Linked DNA regions of Homo sapiens: region 1 is linked to region 2. Evidence: fine-mapped expression QTL. A gene starts in region 2. The other region holds a variant in brackets. All regions are shown on one strand. Distances are from middle to middle.

Region 1 (12,147 bases), 220 kb before region 2:
AAGGTTATTTACTCTCATACTGTGAATTATAAGCCTCCTCCTGTTTCATTCCAGGTCTCTGAAATGGTACAGATTACAAATAGCTTTCTTTTGCCTGACTCCATTATGTCAGTTAATAACCTAGTCTTCCCCACTAAGGGCAAAAAAGCATCCTTCCTACACTGTAACCCTCCTAAAATGCTATGAGTTTGTTAAGTAGTGGCAGACAACTTTACACATGGGATTCTCTTTGGCCTGGTGAAAAGCTCGACGACCTTCTTTTTGCAACACTCACAGGTATAAACCCAGTGTAATTAAATATTAAAAGAATGTTAGTAATAGAAATACCATAGAGCTTATAGCTCTGATCGGATGAAACTTCTAATCCTATTCTCATGAAAAAAGCTAGCAATTATTCAGAAGCTTACAATCTGTTCGTGGGTTCCCAGGTCTTCAGTTCTTTCCCTTACAGAAATTCTGCTGTGTACAAGTGTACATATTGTATAAAACTTTGTATATGCCAGCCACTTTGGTGTGTACTTGATATATATGATCTTATTTAATCCTCACATCAACTGTAAGATGAATGTTACTATTCCCATTTTACTTATGAGAAAACTGATATGCAGAGAGGTTAAATCACTTATCCAAGTCTGCATATGTAGTAAGTGGCCAACCTAGGGTTGTAACTCAGGTCTATCTGACCTCAAAGCATGCTATTTCCACCATGGCACTACATTTCAAAATCTGAGTTATTTGTGATGTGTCTTTATTTATTATCAAAGATTAAAAAAGGAGAGAACCAAGTCTGTTTCCTTATCCAAAGCCCTGATGAAATGTTTGATGTTTAGGTAAGACAACTTATATGATAGTAATATCTAGATTTGGGTTATCTGTGGTGCTAATCTGTCTATTTTATTTTAGTATTTTCCTAGGGGAAACACTACTACTTTGGCATGGTAACAGATGTTAAAGGGAAGAAAAATTATCTGGTAAATAAATTTATAAAACCCTATATAAGCAAAATTAGAAAGTTGGCTTTAGTGTAGGAATTCTCAGGGGTTTTACTACACTATTGAGTTTTGTGGCTCACCAAAAGGAGGTTGTAGTGGTCCCTTAAATTTTATTTAACTGTTGGATCCTTTCTTTTTTGTGCCTATCATGGAACCTAGTATTTCGTGCAATACTTATCAGGACCATTAATATGCTAAGGAACTTTGAAATGCATTTTTTATATACTTCCCTAGATAAGCAAAATTGCCTTCAAGCAATGCCTTATGCCTTTTACAGGGCACTCTGTCCAAATATATTAATAAAGTGATTCATTTTGTGGAAATCACAAACTCATATATACATATATATATATTTTTTTTTTGAGATGGAGTCTCACTCTGTTGCCCAGGTTGGAGTGCAGTGGAGTGATCTCGGCTCACTGCAACCTCCACCTCCCAGGTTCAAGTGATTCTTCTGCCTCAGAACCCAAGTAGCTGGGATTACAGGTGTGTGCCACCACGCCCGGCTGCTTTTTGTATTTTTGGTAGAGATGGGGTTTCTCCCTGTTGGCCAGGCTGGTGTCTAACTCCTGACCTCAAGTGATCTGCCCACCTCGGCCTCCCAAAGTGTTGGGATTAGCCACCGTGCCGGGCCTCATATTCTGATAATAATAGAAAAGTACTTGGGAACACAGGAGGGAAGAGTGGGAGAAACCTTTTAAAACTTATTAAGATATGAAGAATTGTTTAAACTGTATGTAGATAATTACTACAGTGATATTTGTAAAAAGCTCCAAACTGAAAACAACCTGAATGTCTATCAGTAGAAGAATGCATTAATACATTATATATGTCCAAGTAATTAGATATTTAATATATATTTCCCTTCATTTTCTTTTGAAGTTTTTTAAATAAAAAAGGATGAAAGAAAACATGAATCCCTTGTGTTTAAAATGTAGAATCAATGCTAATTTTTTCATTTTGCCTCTAAATTTTGTATATAAAAAATTATTGCCATAATTTTTACCCCAAAAATGTACTTATTCTAGATTATATTTTCTTCAAAATGAAAAGACAAACTTGAAAAATATTTGCAAACTATACAACACACAAAATTTAATATGCTTAATTTACAAAGCTCTTGCAAATCAGTAAACAAAAGAAAAACACAACAGTTAGAAAATGGGCAAAGCAACAAAAGAAAGCAATGAGGAAAGAACTCTCTATTCAATTAATGGTGCTGGGATAACTGGCTAGCCATATGCAGAAGACTGAAACTGGACCCTTACTTTTCTCCATATGCAAACATTAACTCAAGATGGATTAAAGACTTAAATGTAAGACTTCAAACTATAAAAATCCTAGAAGCAACCCTAGGAAATACCCTTCTCAACATTGGCCTTGGCAAAGAATTTTTGGCCAAGTCCCCAAAAGCAATTGCAACAGAAACAAAAATTGACAAGTGGGATCTAATTAAACTAAAGAGCTTCTGCACAGCAAAAGAAATTATCAGTAGCAAAAACAATCTACAGAATGGAAGAAAATATTTGCAAACAATGCATCTGACAAAAGTTTAATATCCAGAATCTATAGGGAACTTAACAAGCAAAAAAAAAAAAACAACCCCATTAAAAATGGGCAAAGGACATGATGAACAGACGTTTCTCAAATGAAGACATACAAGCAGCCAACAAACATATGAAAAAAAATGCTCATCATCACTAATCATCAGAGAAATGCAAATCCAAACCGCAATGAGGTACTATCTCACACCAGTCAGAATGGCTATTATTAAAAAGTCAAAAAATAACAGATGCTAGTGAAGCTCCAGAGAAAAGGGTATGCTTATACACTGTTGATGGGAATGTAAATTAGTCCATCCACCGTGGAAAGCAGTTTCAAGATTTCTCAAAAACACTTAGAACTGCCATGCCACCCAGCAACCCCATTACTGGGTATATATACCCAAGGAAAATAAATCCTTCTAACAAAAAGACTTATGTACATATATGTTCATCACAGCACTATTCACAGCAGCAAAGACATGCAATCAACCTAGGTGTCCATCAACAGAGGACTAGACAAAGAAAATGTGGTACATGTATATGATGGATACTACACAGCCATAAAAAATAATGAAATCTTATCCTTTTCTGCAACATGGATGCAGCTGGAGGCCATAATCCTAAGAAAATTAACACAGAAACAGGAAACCAAATAATGCATGTTCTCATTCATAAATGGGAGCTAAACATTGAGTACCCATGGAAACAAAGATGGCAACAATAGACACTGTGGACTACTAGTTGGGGAAGGACAGAAGGGGGTGGGTTGAAAAACTACCTATTGGGTACTATGCTCACTACCTAGGTGATGGGATCTATACCCCAAACCTCAGCATCACACAATATACCACCTAACGAACCTGCACATGTACCCCGAATCTAAAATAAAAGATGAAATTATTTTCAAATTTTGTAAAAAGTAAATGGGCAAAGGATGCAAACAATCAACAAAATAGAAATTAAAATGAAAAATAAACATTAAACTTGTTCAACTTCACTGTAAAGAAATGCAAATTAAAATAACCTAAAATACTAATTTTTATCTATTAAGTCAGCCAATTTTTACAAATTACAGTACCTATTGTAGGCAAGGACATGCTGAAACAGATGTTCTTATACAATGCTGATGTGAGTTTAAATTCATAGATCATTTTTTGAGTGCAACTTGGAAACACGTATAAAAACATTAAAATCTCATACTTTTTTAATTCAAAGAAACTAGCACTTTAATTTTATTCTGCATTTTTGTGCCTTTATACTACAAAAAAACTATATACTTTTATAATATACAATCTGGTGAGTTTTGAAATACGTTTACATCTGTGAAACCATCGCTGCAATCAAAATAATGAATATATCCATCTCTCCCAAAGGTTTTCTTCTGCACTTTTATAAATAACCCCTGCGCCATCACCAGGCAAACACTGATTTATTTCGTTACTATCAGTTTTCATTTTCTAGAATTTTAAACAAGTAGATCTGTACAAATGTATTTTTTTGTTTTGTCTGGCTTCTTCCACTCAACATAATTGAGATTCACCTTTGTTGCTGTGTGTAAGGATAATTGATTTCTTTTTATTGATGAGTAGTATTCCACTGGATATATACATATATTATATATATATACACACACACACACACACACACACACACACTAAAATTTACTTTTCCATCTATTAATGGATATCAGAAGTGTTTCTAGTTTTTTGCTCATACACATAAAGCTGCTATAAACATTTGTGACCAAGACTTTGTGTGAACCTGTGCTTGGGTAAGTACCAAGGAGTAGGATGGCTAAGTCATATGGTAGGCATAGAATTTTTTTTTTAATGAACCATTTTTCTATCCTGTCCCTGTGTGTGGTAGATGCTCACTCTCTCATTCTTTCTAGATAGCTTTATCAGATTAAGGAGGTTCCCTTTTTTT[TA/A]AATTATACTTTAACTTCTGGGACACATGTGCAGAACGTGCAGGTTTGATACATAGGTATACATGTGCCATGGTGGTTTGCTGCACCCATCAACCCGTGGTATATCTACATTAGGTATTTCTCCTAATGCTATCCCAAACCTAGCCCTCCAGCCCCCGACAGGCCCCGGTGTGTGATGTTCCCCTCCCTGTGTCCATGTGTTCTCATTGTTCAACTCCCACTTATGAGTGAGAACATGTGGTGTTTGGTTTTCTGTTCCTGTGTTAGTTTGCTGAGAATGATGGTTTCCAGCTTCATCTATGTCCACTTATCTGTGGAAGCTAAAAATTAAAACAATTGAACTCATGGAGTTAGAGAGTAGAATGATGATTACCAGAGGCTGGGAAGGGTAGTGGAGGGGTGAGTGCTGGAGGGGAATTGGGGATTGTTAATGGCTACAAAAAAAAAAAAAAAAAAAAAACAGAAAGAATGAATAAGACCTAGTATTTGCTAGGGCAACAGGGTAACTATAGTCAAAAATAATTTAATTGTACATTTTAAAATAACTATAAAAGTATAACTGGATTGTTGGTAACACAAAGGATAAATGCTTGAGGTGATGGATACCTCATTTACCAAAATGTGATGATTATGCATTGCATGCATGTATCAAAATATCTCATGTAATACATAAATATATATATACCTACTATGTACCCATAAAAATTAAAAATAAAAATAAATTTAATAAGATATGTTATCCAATTTTCCATCATCATAATGTTGTGAATAATATCACTAAACATAAATCTTTCTCCTCATTTATAATCATTTCCATAGGATAGAATCCTGGAAGCAAAATTACTGGTATGAATTTTTTAAAGGGTCAATGGATAAGGCCAAATCATTTTCCGGAAAGCTTAAACAAATAGCTACTTGAGGGCCTACTATATGCCAGATATTGTTTCAGGAAGATTATATTATACCAGTTTTACAGATGAGTAAACTAGGATCCATTGACATTATTTTTCTAGAGTTATGGAGATAAGAGGCAAAGCTAGAATTCAGCTTCATAATTGCCCAATTTCAAAGCTCTTGTTATTTCCATGTGGATTTCAAAAATAGTATTTTTGAAGTATCAAATTATATATTTACTAAAGAAAATGTGGAAAATGCAAGTAGAAGGTAGAGAAATGAAAACAAATTACCCATGAATCCACCACTTTCAATAGTTCAGTGTATTTCCTCAGTCTCTTATTCCAAATGTAATTTTGGGGGTCAAAAATATAGCATTGTATATATAATTTTATATCCTGCCTTTTTCACTTAACATTTTTCAGTGCTGATCTATACTCTTCATAAATGTAATTTTAATGGTTGCATATTATTGTCAAGTGGGTGTTACCACATGAATATTTACAGTTGTTCAGCTCATCTGTGAATTTCTTCTCTTCATTCCCAGGACTCACCATCTCTGCCTCCCATGAGGCTTACAGAGTTCAATGTTGGAAATCATTGTAATCTTCAAAATAAGTCACCGTGTTGGATTGAAAGCTTCAAAATTTGAAAGAATTCCATCAAATACTTGCTGTGTAAATGTTTCTGGACTTTATGTTATTTAATTTACTGACTGAAATCCAATTTGGAATTTGGTAGCAGTTAATTCAAGCCAATTTTTTTTGTTTCTTCATTTCCCCTCCCCCAATCCATGAAAGCCTAAATGTAAAATATATCTTTTCATTCATCTTATCAGGTAAAAGGAAATTCAGAAAATTTCCTTAGAGTCTTTAATTCCCCCACAAAGATTATTAATCACATATATAGGGCCTTTTTGGTGTTGAAGGGAATCAAACTACATTTGCTGCTTGTGTGCGTGTGCATTTGTGAACACGTACAGCATATCTATACAAAATTCTGCTATAGTGTGAAAATCAGGGCTAAAAACCTGAAGCCTTTGTTTAATTATGCTTTTCCTCTAAATAGCAACTTAAATATTTGCTAGACTTTGAATCATCGCTATATCAAGTATCTAAAATTTGGGAGGGTGAATCAGTACACTGTGACCAAGGTCCTCAAATTGGAATTTGAACAACAATGTAAAACCTGTTCTGTCACAAATGTTCCTGAAAGCACCACAGCTACTCAAGAAGATCAAATTCAGGACATAAACTTTATTGAACATAATAACCAGTGTTTTTTAAAGACTTTTTTGTCAGGGTGCAGTAAAATTCTCCAATTACTTTTATTCATTTATCTGCTTCCTAGTTTTATTTTAGCCTTTATGAGTTATTTTATGATGAAAGAAAATCTATAAGCCTAAGTTATGGCCCATAGGTTTTGTTAAGGGTTTTCAGAGTGATTTTCAGGTTTAATTTCACTGCCTTTCATAAGGGTAAAGTTTCACAGCTGACATTAGCCTGAGGATTAGCACTAAAGAGCTGTGTTTTCATAGCAGGGGCTATTGTACAGACAGTGATAACCAAATAGTAATATGCCAGTTCTTTCTTCTTTTTTTAGCTTCAGTAGTAGCTAAGCCATTAATACAGTTTGCATCAATTTCCCCATTTATTTATAATCAGCCTTTCTTTTAGTCCTAGTGCCTGAATCAATGAGTGAGAATACTAGTACTGATTCTTTACAATAATAATATCTTAAGAGTATTGATATCTTTCATTTTTTCATCCAGCAGTCTAGTGCCCAGCTGCTGACAATAAAAGCTCCAACTCTTTTAGAGATCAGTGGAATTTAGAAGCATCTTACAGGTATCAAGGAATTGAGCTTCTAGAGGGATGGTTTGGCTTACTAATTTATCTTCCCTGAAATATGTTTGAGTAAAAAAGAGTTGCCTGCCACAATTTAGTGTTGGGGTTCCAGTGGAGCTGAGAAAGTGAACAATCCAGCTACTTAAAGCAACAACAAAACCTGTTCATCTGGATCCCTAGGTAATTTTGACCAAGGTGAGACTTTTGGCATAAATTAAATGGATTGTGGTCAGCATTACATTTGAGAGAATACTAGACATGACTACACTTATTAGGGCTAGTGACTTTCTCAAACTCAGAAGCTAAAAAGCAGCCTAGATGACTATGCACACACTGGGTTTCAAGATGAAATCTTCTTATATATTCAGATGGAAAAAAATTTCCCCTTACACTCTTTCTCAAAATACTCTCATTTCGGTTTTTCCTGAAACCTTATTTGGCCATTCCCATGGTTTTATGACAGACAAGCCTTGTCTTCTATTCATATAGATATGCACCTTTTTCTACATGTATGGCCTTTACTTACTACACAGCAAGTAGGCCTCAAAGTAATCTTCCTCTTTCCCATCAATCATCTTCTGCCAAGCATTCAGGCAGAGCAGCTGTTAACTGTGATTCAAAGTCAGAAAAACATCAAGAACTTCTTTGATGCATAGGGTGTATCAGCACTCAGCTCCCACAGAAGTCAAGTCACAAAATATAGTGTCAGTTAACTATAAGGAAGTTCCGGAGAGGTAAAGCTCAGGAAAGATGTAATGCAAAGCTGATTGTTTAATGTCTTACAGATTTACACTGTCTTTAAAAGGCCAAATAAGGCTGGGCGCAGTGGCTCACACCTGTAATCCCAACATTTTGGGAGCCCAAGGCGGCCGGACCACCTGAGGTCGGGAGTTCAAGACCAGCCTGACCAACATGGAGAAACCCTGTCTCTACTAAAAATACAAAAATTAGCCAGGAGTGTTGGTGCATGACTGTAATCCCAGCTACTCAGGAGGCTGAGGCAGGAGAATCGCTTGAACCTGGGAGGTAGAGGTTGTGGTGAGCTGAGATCGTGCCATTGCACTCCGGCCTGGGCAATAAGAGTGAAACTCTGTCTCAAAAAAAAAAAAAAAAAAAAAAAAAGCCAAATAAATCAGGGTTTTACCAGGGGCTCAGAGATAAAAAGAAAACCTATTCCTATCTTAGCATTTTGGTCTCATTGGTTTATAGACTCTGATAATATCCCTATCCATGGATCATTTGAGTATTGACTAATGTACATAGGTACCCAACTGGTTGATTATTAATCAAGAATACAGAACTTTATTTAATAATTAGCACACCCTGATCTGGCTTCTTTGCTTGCTTTTCTTTGGATCCCTGTCCAATAACCTCTGTGGAATCTCATTCCCTAATTGTTGATACTCATTTTCTCCGTTTGCAAAATGAAGATACTCATTGTTAGGATCCTACTGCTGAAGGGTGCTATGTCACTTTCTAGTGCTCTTATATGTCTTTAATTATAGGACTGGAATGAAAAGCTTAACCATACAGTATTTCTAAGCAAAATAATGTACTCCATTCTTTTGTCCATGCTCTCATTGCTGATTTGTTCTTGCAGGACTTAGAGCACTTTGTTAATGTTCTTCCATTCACTCCAACAGCGTCCTCAGAAAGAGACAGAATAAAAAAATTGTTCCCCATGGTACAGCTGGAAAAATTAAGGGGAAAAGAGATTAAGTGGTCCCCAATGGAACACAGCTGTCTTATGCAGGGCTCACAGTTACCATGTTCAGTACATTGTTAAAGTAACTTGGCTTCCCAGGACTGGAATTATCATGGAGCAGTTAGAATTTTGAGAGTAATTACAACAGGATCACATTCTGAAAGAGTCACATTTTGTCAAAAATCTGAAAAGTATGCAATTTGTACAACTCTTACTTTCTATGTGATAAGAATGCAATATGTGCCTCTTTCCCCTACTAGCCCCATGTGACACATATTTTTCACACTATGTGGCATCAACCAGTGCCATTACCTCCTGTGGCACCATAGAGCCCAATCTCAGGGCAGACATTGCCAAGGTAAAGAATGCACTCCATGTTTATACCAAATTGCACAAAGTATAGACATTGAGGTTAATGGAGATTTAAGCACAATCCTAGCAAGTAAGTTTTAAGAATACTGAATATTATACATTATTGTAACATGAACCTAAAATTAATTTAACAGGGCCCAAATTCATAGGAATGTAACAGTCATTGAAAGCCTATTCTTTTCACCTCTCATCACACATATCTACATACATGTATGCACATGTACACACACACACACACACACACACACACACATACACATTTTCTCCAAAGCAGGCTGCCTCTTCAGCAGGAGCAAATACTTTAATTTAAAAGAATGATTATCTGTTTTCTCCTTTTAGAAAAAGAGTCTAAGAAACACAGCATGTGAAGAACATTAGATTTATACATTCCAGAATCTCTGCTCTCAGAGTAGCTAAGAGATTCGGTACAGAAGACGTTCTATGGAGAAGCACAGGGGGCATCTAATGAGATTGTCAGGCCCTTGGACAAGATCCATATTCTTAGAAAATTAATGAGTTCCATCTCGTTAGGAATTGGTTGATGAGGTATGGTACATCTGCATTTCTTTAACCATAGCTGTAATGTACCATATTAAATTGTAGCCTTTTGCATGCGGGTATTATATAATAATGAATGGGTGGCTCCTAGTAGCATGCAACCCATGACTGTTTACTTCCCTAAAAGGGTTAGGTCTGTGTCCTGCACAGTGTTCAAAACCATTAAATGTGTTCTTTGTAGCAGGATGGTACACAGCCATCAGCAGAATGAGTTAAAACCAACAATGAATTCAATATACCAGGAAATAGATTGTTAGTAGGGAATGGCATTAAAGGAAAAAAAAATTAGATAAGATGCATTCAAGGAATAATTACTTTCACTCTGCTGGCTTAATCAGTGAAGGAACATAAAAGGAAAGCTGGCAGTGGGTCTTGGTAATATATGAACTATATTAGAGTGCCAGAAAAGGAGACCTCAGAAGTTAAGCATAGGTTGCCAATCTGCTACAATTATTTTTCCCACCAATCTGCTCAAAATGATTGTATATAGTATTCTTAAAACCATGTGTCTTGGTGCAGAAATATTGACAAATGCTGGCCAGCTTTATCTTCCTATATCCTTCATTAAAAGTATATGCATATAATTGTTGGTTTTTTTTCCTAAATTGTGGCTTTGTTAAACAATGTTGACAAACCCTAAAGTTTCAGACTACTCTAAGGAAGTTTCTATACATCTAATTTCATAGGGGTATAGTGATGTTTGTTCACTCAGGTTGATTGGTATGCGTGGTATGTAGACTTCTCTGTAACATCTCACCTTCTGAACAGCCCCTTCCATGTGTTCGGTATTTCTGTCTTATGTTCCTACATGAATATGAATTGGGAAATTAGCTGCAATGGCTTTTAGATAGAAAGCTGACCAGTCTAGTGACACTTAATCACATTCAGTCTCTACTCAGCCTCACACATCTTTTGCCTTTCACTCTGCCATTGTGATGAAAGGAAAAAGAAAGAACTTTTCTTATGTGCCTAAGGGTGAAGTGAACTCTGGTTTGCTTTTTCTTACACTGAAGGCTATGTGTACTATTCTCCAGATGCATGTCACCTGAAAAAAGATACATAGAGGGGAACAACAGACACTGGGACCTATCAGAGGGTGAAGGGTGGGAGGAGGGAGAGAACCAGAAAAAATAACTAATGGGTACTAGGCTTAATACCTGGGTGATGAAATAATCTGTACAACGAACTCCCATGACACAAGTTTACCTATATAACAAACCTACACATGTACCTCTGAATTTAAAAGTTAAAATAAGTATAAACAAAACACACTAAAAAAGAAACACAGTAGCCCACTTACTCCTAACTCATACATTACCCTCAGAGAAATATTTGAGGAGACCCTCATTAAGGTAAGCCCCAGATAAGGTTTCCCTCAATTGATGCACCATTTGCAGGAAAAGTCCTTTTTCAGACAGAATGGAGAAAGCCCCCAATTAGCCAACCAGGAAGGCAGAAGTCATTCAAAATGCAGAGCATTGAAAACTGAAGTTTGGAACAGTCATTGCTGACTTTCTGACCAATTAATAATGGAGAACTTGAATCACTTAAAAGAAGCCCAACCCATAGATGTCAGGCTTAACACAAAACCAGAAAAAAATCTTTTATTCCAGCCAAGCTTATTTTTTTTAAAAAAAGTACTTACTTTGTCCTAGGTAAAGACCTCAAATATCTCTGTAGAAAATCCCATGTCATTTATTCTAGTGAATCAGTTACAAAGAGCTCATATTACAAACAAAGTGTTACTGGAAAGGGGTCTGGACCCAGACCCCAAAAGAGGGTTTTGGATCTCATGCAAGAAAGAATTTGAGGTGAATCCATAAAATGAAAGCAAGTTTATTAGAGAAGTAAAGAAACAAAAGAATGACTCCTCCATATGCAGAGGAGCCCAGAGGGCTGCTGGCTGGCCACTTTTATGGTCATTTCCTGATTATATGCTAAACGAGGGGTGGATTATCCATGCGTTCTCCAAAAAGGGGTGGGCAATTCCAGGAACTGAGGATTCCTCCCATTTTTAGGCCATATAGTGCAACTTCCTGACATTGCCATGGCATTTGTAAACTGTAATGGTGCTGGTGAGAGTGTCTTTTAGAGTGCTAAGGCATTATAACTAGCATATAGTGAGCAGTGAGGAAAATCAGGTCATTTCCATTACCATCTTGGTTTCGGTGGGATTTGCCTGGCTTCCTTACCACATGCTATTTTATCAGCAAGGTCTTTGTGACCTATATCTTGTGCTGACCTCCTACTCATCCTGTGACTTAGAATTCCTAACCACCTGGGAATGCAGCACAGTAGGTCTCAGACT
Region 2 (12,540 bases):
GTTTTTAGCCACAAAGTTTGTGTTAGTTTGTTACGGAGCACCATGAAATCAACACGACATCATACTGATGCTTTTGCCATCATACCATTCAGTACTACCTCGATGTACCTGAGTTTCCTTCCTTCTCTGTAATTATTAATACTACCATAATTATTGCAGTTACCTGGGTAACAATAGATCTTTAAAAAAATCTGATTCTGCCAGAGAGGCTCCCTCAAACATAAAGTAAATAATGATTCGGGTTAGTAAGAAATCACAGAATAATGGGTTTTATAGCCAGAGGTATCTTAGTGATATTACATTAATAGACAGATATGAACCCTCATCAGGCTCAGCCTATTAAAAATTGATGTCACACTCAAGCCTATCCACCCCTTTGTAACCCATCTTATTAAAATAATTTTCCAGATAACTAATTTTTCTCATTCACATTCTCTCACCCCACTTCAACATCTTTTAGAATATCTTGAAACTGCAACTTGGAGAGTTTAAGATGAAAACTTTGAAGTGAGTTCTGAGAGCTTAAAAACATCATACTGAGTTATTAATCTATAGCTTTATCATGGGTCTACATGCCACACAGATAAAAAGACAAGTTTTCACAGTTCACTGGATCCTTCATACCAGAGTAAAACCATGGAGCTTTAAAACAGCAAGCAAGTTAGATCTTCAAGAGACTTGAAATTAGGGTATACCTGCTGGGCGTGGTGGCTCACGCCTGTAATCTCAGCACTTTGGGAGGCTGAGGCGGGTGGATCACCTGAGGTCAGGAGTTCGAGACCAGCCTGACCAACATGGTAAGACCCCCGTCTCTACTAAAAATACAAAAAAAAAAAAAAAAGAAAAGAAAGAAGGAAATTAGGGTATACCTAGAAATATTTCTAAGGGATACACATGATGACTCTTGGGATGGACCCAATGCATAGTGTTCAAAAGGAGATGATTCTTATTGTGCCATCTACATGGGGTCCCACAGTCCTACGAAATTCCCACAAGATTATTTTTGTCGAGATAAAGCTGGGTCACTGTTTTATAATACATAGGATTGCCCACAATATTACAGTGAAAACAGATTTGGCATGCCCCCTAAATCCTACAGGTGGTATTGACACATACAAGAAAAGGCAGCATAGTTTAGGTTGGCAGCATAGACTTTAGTGTCAGGTTTAGGTTTGAGTTTTGACTCCGCTGTTTACTAGGTAAGCAATCTTGGGAAAGTTCTTTAATGTCTGTAAGTCTCAGGTTACATCAGCAGAAAAAAATGGTAATTATAATAATAGCTACCTCATACAATATTGGAGAGGATTATATGATCATGTATGTAAAGCAGTAGCTACTCCCTGTTACAGATGAAGCACTCGATAATTAATAGCTGTTATTATTATATATGAGGATTAAGATATTATTTTGCATGATATGCAAAGAAACCAGCTCATTTACAAATTTGTAAAAGATTTTTTTTCCCCTGGAGGTTAAGCATTAAAGTTTACCAAAATCTCTAAATTTTTATTAAGTTAAAAAATAACTAAAACTTTGCATTCATTTTTAAAATTTAATTTTTATACAAACAACTATTATTAAAACCCTCTATGGCATGGTGACAAGGAGCATGGGCTCTGGAATCAGACCTTCTGGATTTGGATATCATCTCTACCACTTCCAAACTACTTGGGCAAGCCCAGAGCTTTCTTTTCCTCATTTGTAAGGTGGAGATTATAACAGAAACCACTCTTTATGTGCGTTGAGTGGATTAAATTCGATGATACAACTTAAAGCACCCAGTGCAGTGCAGTGCAGTGCTTAAAACAGAATAAATGCCCAATAAATATTCCCTTCAAAAAAGGGAAAAAAAGTGATAAACATAACTTTAAAACAACTACTTATTTTGTGCAATGTTCTCCTAAAATCTCAATAGTAATAAACATGTGTGTATGTGTTTATATATTCATACATATAAATGTATATATATGTTTGTTTCTTCTTTATTCAACATTATTTCATATATACTTTCCCATATACAGTATCAACGCAAGTACATACATATACTTTTCAAATAATAGCTGTTGAGGTATTTCGTTGAACTGCTTTTGGAATATTTGGAATTATTTTCAAAAGTTGCACTGGTCATGGTGGCTCATGCCTGTAAATCCCAGCCATTGGGGAAGCTGAGGCAAGAGGATCACTTGATGCTTGGAGTTTGAGACCAGCCTGGGCAACATAGCGAACCCCATCTTTAAAAAATTTTTTAAATATATGTCAGGCACTGTCGTACACACCTTAGTCCCAGCTACTTGGGAGGCTGAAGCGGGAGGATCCCTTGTCCAGGAGCTTGAGGCTGCAGTAAGCTGTGATTGCAACACTGCACTCCAGCCTGAGTGACAAGAGCGAGACTCTGTCTCTAAAAAATAAATAAACAAATAAAGTAAAACGACAGAAAAAGTTGCTATTATTAATAACACTGATATAAACATCTTTATGCAATGCACCTTATTTTGGGGGAAGGGTAATTTTGGGCTGCATTTTTTAAAGTGTAAACCAGGTTAAGAGGTATACAATAGAGACAAGAGGGCTAACTGACAACATGTAAGAGACACTACCCTACAGACTCCAAACACAGACAAGTTGGTTAAAAGTAGCAACAAAAAGCCCCAAAGTTTTTAAAAAATGCATAGTTGAGCTTGAAAGCAAACAAAGGAAATGTCTAGAGGTTAGAAAACGAAGAGGAAAATCAAACCTATTTATCGCCTCTTCCTTACAGACTCCACCAAAATAACATAAAAGAATAAAACAGAAATAAATCCACAAGGATAAAGAGACTAGGATTAGAGAAGGGCAATGCCGGGATCTTCAACTAAGTCATTATTTTTAAGATCTAAGGCAGGCTGGGCATAGAGGTTCACGCCTGTAATCCCAGCACTTTGGGAGGCCGAGGCAGGTGGATCACGAGGTCAGGAGATCAAGACAATCCTCGGTGAAACCCCGTCTCTACTAAAAATACAAAAAATTAGCCGGGCGTGGTGGCATGCACCTGTAGTCCCAGCTACTCAGGAGGCTGAGGCAGGAGAATCGCTTGAACCCGGGAGGCGAAAGTTGCAGTGAGCTGAGATTGTGCCACTGCACTCCAGCCTGAGCAACTGAGTGAGACTCCATCTCAAAAAAAAAAAAAAAAAAAAAAAATTTAAGGCAAGTATCATAAAATCTTAAGCTATGACTAAGCTGGGTTGTAGGTACATGGTGATTACGTTTTTCTTTGTAATTTTCAGTTATGATTCAATATTTCCAAATGTTAAAAGTACATGGAAAATAAGTTAGTTTCAGAAAGTGATACGTGCTCTAAAAGTGCCTCTCAGACTTGAATGTGCATATGAACAACCTGAGGCATTCTAATTAAAATTCGGATTTTGAATATTTAAGTCTGGCATCGGGCTTGAGATTCTGCATTTCTTTTTTTATTGCTATGTAATAGCTGTACATATTGTTGAAGTACATGTGATATTTTGATACATGATGCATATGATATCATAAACAATATATACAACAAGGTAATAATCAAATAAAGAAACATTTAGCTTTTCTTTATGTTGGGAACATTCTCTTTCTTCCAAATGTGGTGTACATACACAATAAAATATTGTTCAGCCATAAAACAATGAAATCCTGTCATTTGCAGCAACATTGATGGAACTGAAGGTCATCATGCTAAGTGAAATAAGCCAGGTACAAAAAGACAAATACCACATGTTCTCACTCATATGTGGGAGCTAAAAAAGTATATCTCATGAAGGTAGAGGGTAGAATAGTGGTTATCAGAAGGTAAGAAGAGCAGAAGGGAGGGGACAATGAAAAGAGGTTGGTCAATGGGTACAAAAATGTAGTTAGAAGGAGTAATATCTAGTGTTCTATAGTACAGTAGGGCAGGTGACTATAGTTAACAACAACTTACTGTATAGTTCAAAATAGCTAAAAAAGATTCTGCAGTTCTAACAACCTCTCAAGTAATGCCAATGCTAGTGGTCCATGGATCACATTGGAATAGCAAGATTTTAAGGGAAATAACACAAGGCAATGGTGATACAGAGTGGTGGGGACAGGGGGTGGCCTCTTCAGATAAGGTTCTCTTGGAAAGCTTCTCTAAGCAGGTGACATTTGTTTTGAGACCTGAAAGATAAGAAAAAGTCATTTAAAAATCTACAGGAAAGATATTCCTGGTAGAGGGGAAAGCAAGTGGAAAGGTCCTGAGGTGAGAATAAGTTCTGGTATTTTTTAGAAACAGAAGACCACTGTGGCCTTCTTAAATTGCTCAAGTGTTTCTTCCACATTTCAGGTGTTATTAAGTGAAAAGAGCACTATGTTTGGAGTCATAAAACCTAGGTTTGGTCTCCATCCCATTAGCTCTGTGGCCTCTGACCTAGTCACAACTTTTCTTAGCCTCAGTTTCCTCATAAATATGGGCATATTAATAAATAATACCTATCTTCCATGGTCGATGTGAGGACTAAATGAAATAAGGTATGACAAAGCGGATTGTAAGTTACAAAATACTATACACATTTAATTATTGCATACATAAAGTGCTATCATGTGATCTGTGGTTGTAGCAGCTATTTATAGCAGCTTTTATTGTGTATACCTCTGTCTCTTTAATTTATGTCAGACAGTTATGTGTCAAGTTATTACAGGCTGAGTTGGCCTTTTTGTTGCTGCTCTTCCCCAGCAGTGTGCAACTCTTATTATGCCTCACGTTCTATTTCTGGGTGCCCTGGAAATTTTCTTCGGCTTATTTGGCAAATAAATATTTGCCTCACTTTAGCTCATCATAGAGTAACAACTTGGGTATTTCAATGTTATTCACACTTTTTGATCAAAACAGTTGGCTTACAATGAGCACTACTTTTGGAAAAAAATAATTTGGCTCCATTCAAAGACTTTACAACTGGGTGGTAAGATTCAGTGGCAATATTCAGCCCTAAGAGAAATCATTAGTAGAGTCTAGAGTTTCTCTAATGTATACTGTAGCTGTCTAACACAGAATAGATGCTGAATAAATATTTGTTGATGACAATATAGTCATTAATATGAAGCCATTACTGATCTACTGTCAACAATACAATAATAAGCTAGAAACATCCAATTAGTCACTAAGTCTTGCCAATTCCATCTCCTAATTGCCCTGCAATCGATCTACTGCCACTGCTACTGCTAGGTTGAGGCCTTTATTTTATGACTGAACTATTGCATTAACTTCATGACTTCAATATGAACTCCGTCCAATCCAACCTTCTCACTTAAGCCAGAGTAGCTTAATGGACATATAAATCTGATCATGTTACTCTCCTGATTAAAACTCTTCACTGGTTATAGGATAAAGTATTAACTTCTTAGAATGAAATAGAAGGCCCTTTACCATCAGGTCTCTGTTCACTCAGGTTAACCTCCTACTACTTTCCCAAACTCCATAGACTCCTGAACCTGAAAATATTTTCTTATGCCTTCTTGCTTTTAACATGTCATCTTCTTTACGTGTAATTCCAGTCAACCTCTTCAACTTGAATTCTATTTTTCTTTAAATAACTAGCTCAAGCATCCCCTTGAATGAATCCCAGAACAAAAAAGCTAACTGCATGGGCTACAGATTTCTGTTTTTCTTTATCAGACTTACTAGTCCAAAGTACCTCTTCATAAGAAGTCCATAATTATTTGTCTCTTTTGTGTGAAAAGTTGGAGAATGCAGCAGTGAATATAAAATTGCAACTGCATTATTGTCTCCGGGGTTTCAGGTAACATTTACAACTGGAAATGCAGTTTCCTAGATAACTGTAAACATATTTTGACATTTTGTTTGATAATAGTGGTGACAAAAGAATATAAGCCTGTCTTTAAACATGGTCTTCTCTCCATACATTTCACTTTACCACCCTTCAGCCAACCTAAGCGATTTTTCAAGAATTAGGGACGCTGCAAAAACCAAAGCGAAGAGCTAGAAAGAGTGACAAAATTAGTAAAGATGTCTGTAGTCTCTCTGTGTGTGTGTGTGTGTGTGTGTGTGTGAGACTGTCCCACGAGCAACAGACCAAAGGAAAACTGCCCCAAGGTTTGCGCAACAGAGAACAATCAGCAAAGTTAAAGTCCTTACAGGACAGAAAAGCAGTAAATCTTACAGCTGAAGCCTCCTCCCAGGGGAAATTAACGTCTGTAGTTTAATCTTTCCTTAATTCAGAAGGGAGTGAAGATAAGAATATGCATAGGGAAAATGGAGAGAGGGGAGCGTGACATTGAGTTGGAGGAGGTAAGAGAGTATTATGAGAGACAAGATGGGGTTGACAGATTTAGCAGATACAATATTTGGGACACACGCACGAAGAGATGATTCGTTGTTTATGTAAAATTGAAACTTAACTAGGTAGGCATCCTGTATTTCATCTGGCAACTCCAGGAAAAGAGAAAAATACAGTGTTACTCCAATATTCCCGGTTGTGTAAGGAAAACAATCAAAGCTCGGCCCTAAGGAAAAACAAATAAAAGAGGCTGTGCGAATGCATCCGAATCTTCAAACAGAATCCATTTCCGGTCTGGGGCCCTGGGAAAACAAGAAGAGGAGAGACAATTAAGGTAGCCGAATTCAGTCCGCCAGTGTCCCATAATCCTCTTCTCTCGGTTCCTCTTTCCTCGCTCAAGATGGCGCTGCTCGCGATGCATTCTTGGCGCTGGGCGGCCGCGGCGGCTGCTTTCGAAAAGCGCCGGCACTCCGCGATTCTGATCCGGCCTTTAGTCTCTGTTAGCGGCTCAGGTCCGCAGTGGAGGCCACATCAACTCGGCGCCTTGGGAACCGCTCGAGCCTACCAGGTGAGATGCCACTGACATGGAAGAATAGGGTGAAGGGCAAGGGGACCTGTAGGGAAAAGGTTGCCCTCCTGACCTCGGGGCAGAGAGAGCACCAAGAAGAAAGTCATGGCTAACTGGGAGCAGCAGTAAGTGAAGGAAATTAACGTCAGTAATTTGAGGAAAGGGCGAAGAAGAAAACCTTTGAGTTCAGCAAAGGGAAACGGGGCAGGAGGTTCTGGGCAGAGGACACCTGGAGCGCTGGAGGCTCTCGGAGTCATAGTTTTTCTCTCATATTAAGAGTTGGGGTAGACACCATTCCCAGCCTGCTTGCCTTTCTAAAGACGAGGAAGACTGGATTATTTTCCCCAATTAGTAATGGAATTTGGGACAGTTTATCTGTGGTTCAGATTTTACTCAGTTGGAATTAGCAATTCGGAGAGCACTGTAATGACAGCAAGCTATCTATAAACAGGTGGCGCCAGTTAACTCCCTTGCTGACAGGCGTGCTTCTTGATAGGCCAAAACCGTAACTATCTTTCCAAAACATAGACCGCCCTAAATTCTTGTATAAATATGACTGTCCTAGATCTGAAAAATACAGTGATGTTCTCTGTGCACAGGTCATTTTGGAAGCCATAGGCTACTTATCCTTAACTTATGAATGTAGCTATGGTTGTAGTGCCTCCTAAAATTTGAGTCCATTATTACCTCTCACTCAGGAACGGTTTTTTAAAAAATTATTTGTACTTAACTGTACTAAAGTATATCTTTTTATTTTCTGTGTATTGACAAGAGGTTTAATTGCCACCACGTATTTATCACTATCACTTTAAAATATTGTCAGTTTTGTATGAGAAACAACCTCTTAAATTTTGATTCTTCATCTACAAATATTTAACGTCTACCTTGTACATAGCCCTGTGCTAGATGATAGGGTACTAAGAGAGACATACAGTTATGCCTTCAAGGATTGTACAGTTTAGTTAAGGAGATTGGATCTATGCATTACAAAAATAACTGAAAAACACAGTGGTGGGTTAATTAGCAAATGAATAGTATGTACAATAAAGGCTATAGGCATCCAGAGGAAATAGTGATAATTAAGGACCAGGTTATAAAGAGTATTTCATGCTGGTGATAGAACTGGGGAGAATGTTCTGAACAGGGAGAATAGGGAATGACACTAAGCATGTGGAAGGCTGATGGAATGACATTTATAATTCATTCAGTAATTATTGAACACCTCTACAGGAGCAAACAAAATATAAGTCCTGTCTTTAAAGAGCTTAAAATCTAGTGGGAAATATGTAAATTAATCGGCAATTAAAATATAGTGGAGCTGTGTAATAATGGGAAAGGTACAAGGTATGGGACAGTATATGTGAGGGGTATTAAGTCTAATTGTAAGGTAGTGAAGATTGCCTTAAGTAACTGATATCTAAGGCAAGAGCTGAAAAATTAGAAGTTAGCCAGTTAAAGAAGGAATCGCATGTGCAAAGGCCCACAAGTCAGAGAGAACATGGACCTTTTCTAGAACTGCACGTAGTTTAGACTGTAGTGAGTCATTCAAGATAGGAAATAGCAGATTAGGCTAACGAAGCGAATCTAGATGATTTCATTAAGGTTTTTAAAGTATTTTATGGTTGAAAGTTTCTAACACATGATCTCTTGGGAATGGTTTTTGTTCTGTAGTTCTCCAATAAGGCAGATGAAGTTAAGATAAAATTTGTAAATGTTATCTTAGATAAAATTAGATATCTTAAGATAAAATTTCTTAAGCTGGAAGAATGAGGGGGAAGAGGGAAAAGGAGAAGTTATTAGGAATCTCAGAGGAGGCAATGGCAATACAAATTTAGCTTTCTCTCTTTCCATGAACGCTATCTCCACAACTTCCTTCTTCCACTCTGTCCTTTACATCCTACCATTTCCTTTAGTTACCATTTCCTCAGTGTGCAAAACAAGGGAAAGATGTTACCTTTGTTTTCTGTTTCTTAAAGGCATGGAACTCTTGCCATCCTTTTTTTAAAACAGGGTGAGAAAGGAATGATTACAAAGTTTTCAAAGTAGAAGCTGAGGTAACCTGAGGTACCTGCAAATTTGTGACTTGTGATTAAGATTACAAAATAATTACTGAATTCATACTTTTAGGACGATCATTAGTATATAGCATAATATTTTAGAGCTGAAAGGAACCTTAGAGCAGTGTTATGAAATAATGTTAGTGGGTTGGATTAGCACTTTTTTAGATGAAATTCAGTAGAATATAAAGAAAATAGCAGTGCTTTTTACATCTTAAGTGAAGTATTGTTTCATGAACTTTTATGTGTATATACACACACACATATATATTTTATATATATATATACACACACACACACGCACACACACACACACACAGTCCCACATGTATGTGATTACTGGAATTCATTGTAAGTATTTCTCACCCAGTATATGCCCTAGACCTGGGTTGTGGAATATGGTAGTTCTTTTGGATAGGTACTGTTTTGTTTTCATTTGTTGGTCTGACCTCATGGACCAAGAATGGGAGCTTTAATTTCTCCCAGTAGCAAGTTCCACCTTCCTACTCTTCCACCATTGGCTGCTAAGAGTTAGCAGAGTAGATAAAAATTAAAATACTTTACTCCTGGCTTTCATATTAACTGAAGTGGGAATATAATAACAACACTAGGGAAATAATCCTCCTATTCTATATTTTAGAGGTTCTAGTTCATATTTAAATTTAACAATATAAGATGCCTATGAAGAAACTACAGTGATTATTCAACAGTCGTCCCAAAATATACTAAAAGAATAGAAAACAGAACTTATTCATCCTGGCTAACATGGTGAAACCTCGTCTGTACTAAAAATACAAAAAAAATTAGCCGGGCATGGTGGCGGGCTCCTGTAGTCCCAGCTATTCGGGAGGCTGAGGCAGGAGAATGGCGTGAACCCGGGAGGCGGAGCTTGCAGTGAGCTAAGATCGCGCCAGTGCACTCCAGCCTGGGCGACAGAGCAAGACTCCGTCTCAAAAACAAGCAAACAAACAAACAACAACAACAAAAACAGAACTTACAAGAGAAATAAGGGTGTCTTTAAGTGGATTATAGATCATGGAACTGAAAAGGGTGAGAGGTGATTCAGTGACATTTAAAGTACCTGAAGCGGCCTGGCCCAGTGGCTCATGCCTGTAATCCTAACACTTTAGGAGGCCAAGGCAGGTGGATCACCTGAGGTCAAGAGCTCGAGACCAGCCTGACCAATATGGTGAAACCCCGTCCATACTAAAAATACAAAAAGCAGCTGGGCATGGTCACGTGCACCTGTGACTACAGCTACTCAGGAGACTGAGACAGGAGAATTGCTTGAACCCTGGAGGCGGAGGTTGCAGTGAGCCGAGATCGCGCCACTGTACTCCAGCCTGGGCGACAGAGCGAGACTTCCTCTCAAAAAAAAGAAAAAAAAAAAAGGACCTGAAGGGGTTATTTGTAGTTCAGTGATGCCTAAACTTAACTGGAACATTAGGTTATGATACAAAGATGTGGACTTCATTTGCAGGAAGAGGGATTTAATGTGCATATGAGAAATAATTTCTTAGACTAATAGTCTATCTTAGTCTGTTTGGGCTGGTATAACAAAATACCATAAACTACATGACTTATAAGCAAGAGCAATTTATTTCTCACAGTTCAAGGTGCTGACAGATTTAGTGTCTGGTGAGGTCTTGAGGTTCATAGGCGGTGCCTTTTAGCTGTGTCCTCATGTGGTAGAAGAGACAAGGCAGCTCTTTGGCCCCTCTTATAAGGGAACTAATCCTGTTTATGAGAGCTCTACTCTCCAAGTCCTAATCACCTCCCAATGACTCCACCTTTTAATACCATCACATTGGTGATTAAGTTTCAATATAGGAATTTTAGGGGGACACAAATGTTAAAAGCATAGTCCTTTTATTAGGAGACCAATAAAGACTTTTAAAATTATTAAACAATAATTTGCTGTCATTAGAAAAATACGAGCTGTTAGGAAGCAGCCAGCTTGGTTTTGAAAAGAGCAAGACATACCAAACCAATTATTCATATGAGTGAGTGACAGTCTATCTTGATTTCAACACGGCTTTTAATTGTCCCCTACATTGTTCTCACACAGTAAGCTTGGAAGGAATGATATTGAATACTATTAAGAGGTCTTGAGGTAGGAGTAAGCCTTACTGTAAAGAAAATACAGATGACTTAAAAGATTTTTATTTCTAAATGTTAAAAATAATGAAATAACTGGTGTGCAAAGGGCATAACTTGGTATTGTGGGATGAACACTGGACCAGGACACTTGACCGCCTGAGCTCTATTTGTACTGTTAATTATCTTGGACACATAACTTGTTCTTTTGGACATCAGATCCTGTAAACTAGTAATATTTGACTACCAGATCTCTAAGGTTTCTTGCAACTCTCTTGTTTCTTTACTGTAATCCTTTAGGACCAGCCCTTTTTATATAGTACCTCTACTTTGTGATCCTAGTTTACTACTGGTGTAGTATTCAGGAGCAACATAGGGTAAGTTTATGTTCACATGAATTTTTAATGGGACAAATTTGTATTGTTCTTGTCATATTTGTATATCTAAGAGTAGGAATAGAAAAATGTAATTTAATTATGAGCTTAGTATTTGGTAGTGTTGGGAGGATGGAAGTAGTGTGGAGGAAAAAGTAAGCTAGGTTCCGAAATCATCTGGGATGGTAGAAATAGATTCTAAGGGGTGGTGAAGAATAACAGTAATGCTATAAAAGTTGTAAATAAAGATATACCTTACATGGGCTGTATATGGTAAGGAATGGAAAGTGGCACTGGGACTTGAGAAGAGGAATTCAGGGGATTCTTTTTTCAGATATAGTTGAATAAATAACATTCTCTAAGTCATTGACACATTGGTTTTAACTAGTTATTAAGATTATTAGGAAGAGGAAGAAAATTTCATGTTTCTAAACTTTCTTTTAGAACACGAGGCCCTTTGAGAATCTGATCAAAGCCATAGACCTTCTCCCTAGAAAAATATACATACGTATGTGCTTCATTTTGCATGCAATTTCAGGGGAATCAGAAACCTATCCCCTCTTCCAGTCAGTAATCCCTGATTAATACAATATTGCTGGCTGGTGGGTTTCTAATGGTGTTCCTGAGTAGCCAGTGGCAAGATAAAGAGCACTTGTCACTGGGCAGCGGGGTAGAAATAGAGTGGAAACTTACATCAAAATTTTGATTAAATGATAAATGCATAATTGATCATTTAATTATTGTTATACAATTGTTATAAAATTAATATCATTTATTGCTGTATTGTTGTCAGTGTTATCTTAAAGATTTTGCTTTTTCAAAGAAAAGTATGTTCTTTCCCATATTGTAAAATAAGGTATATAATAAGAGATAAAATTGCCCATTCTGTATACGATTCTTATGCTTTACATTGTCCCCATTTTAATTATACAAAACCACATCTAATAAAAACGTCAAGACAGATATCTACAATCCCACATGTTAAATAATTTTTCCTTTTTCCTTTGAATCTCTGTTCTTTCATGTACATAATTTTTACATTATTGGGATAATTTTAAATTCTGTTTTTACTTGTGAGCATTTTTTTTCTTGGTGCTCAGTCTTGACCAAAATTAGGTCTTTTAATTACTTAAGATTTTAGTAATGTTAATAGGTATATATAGTTACCT

Direction of the effects. Positions count from the first base shown, and alleles are read on the strand shown. Sizes are in standard deviations (SD) of each study's normalised expression.
With allele A in place of TA in region 1, the expression in aorta of the gene that starts at base 6,665 in region 2 is lower (moderate effect, 0.51 SD a copy in GTEx).

Evidence for each region. PIP is the estimated chance that this variant, and not a neighbour inherited with it, causes the effect. A credible set is the group of variants that fine-mapping cannot tell apart.
Region 1: its variant is the best candidate, but not a certain one, in a credible set for the expression of ABCB7 in aorta (GTEx, PIP 0.65).

Annotation. Positions count from the first base shown.
Region 1 is chrX:75,366,703-75,378,849 of GRCh38, reverse strand. ZDHHC15 (zDHHC palmitoyltransferase 15) reads left to right here. Exons shown (of 12, transcript NM_144969.3): 12 at 5,905-10,423. Among named protein-coding and RNA genes, the nearest start is that of UPRT, 99 kb to the right of the region's middle. The variant TA/A (reference allele first, on the strand shown) is at 4,463.
Region 2 is chrX:75,150,408-75,162,947 of GRCh38, reverse strand. ABCB7 (ATP binding cassette subfamily B member 7) reads left to right here and starts at 6,665. Exons shown (of 16, transcript NM_001271696.3): 1 at 6,665-6,843. The coding sequence starts at 6,676. It also overlaps a transcript of UPRT not described here. RefSeq lists an enhancer at 6,555-6,984.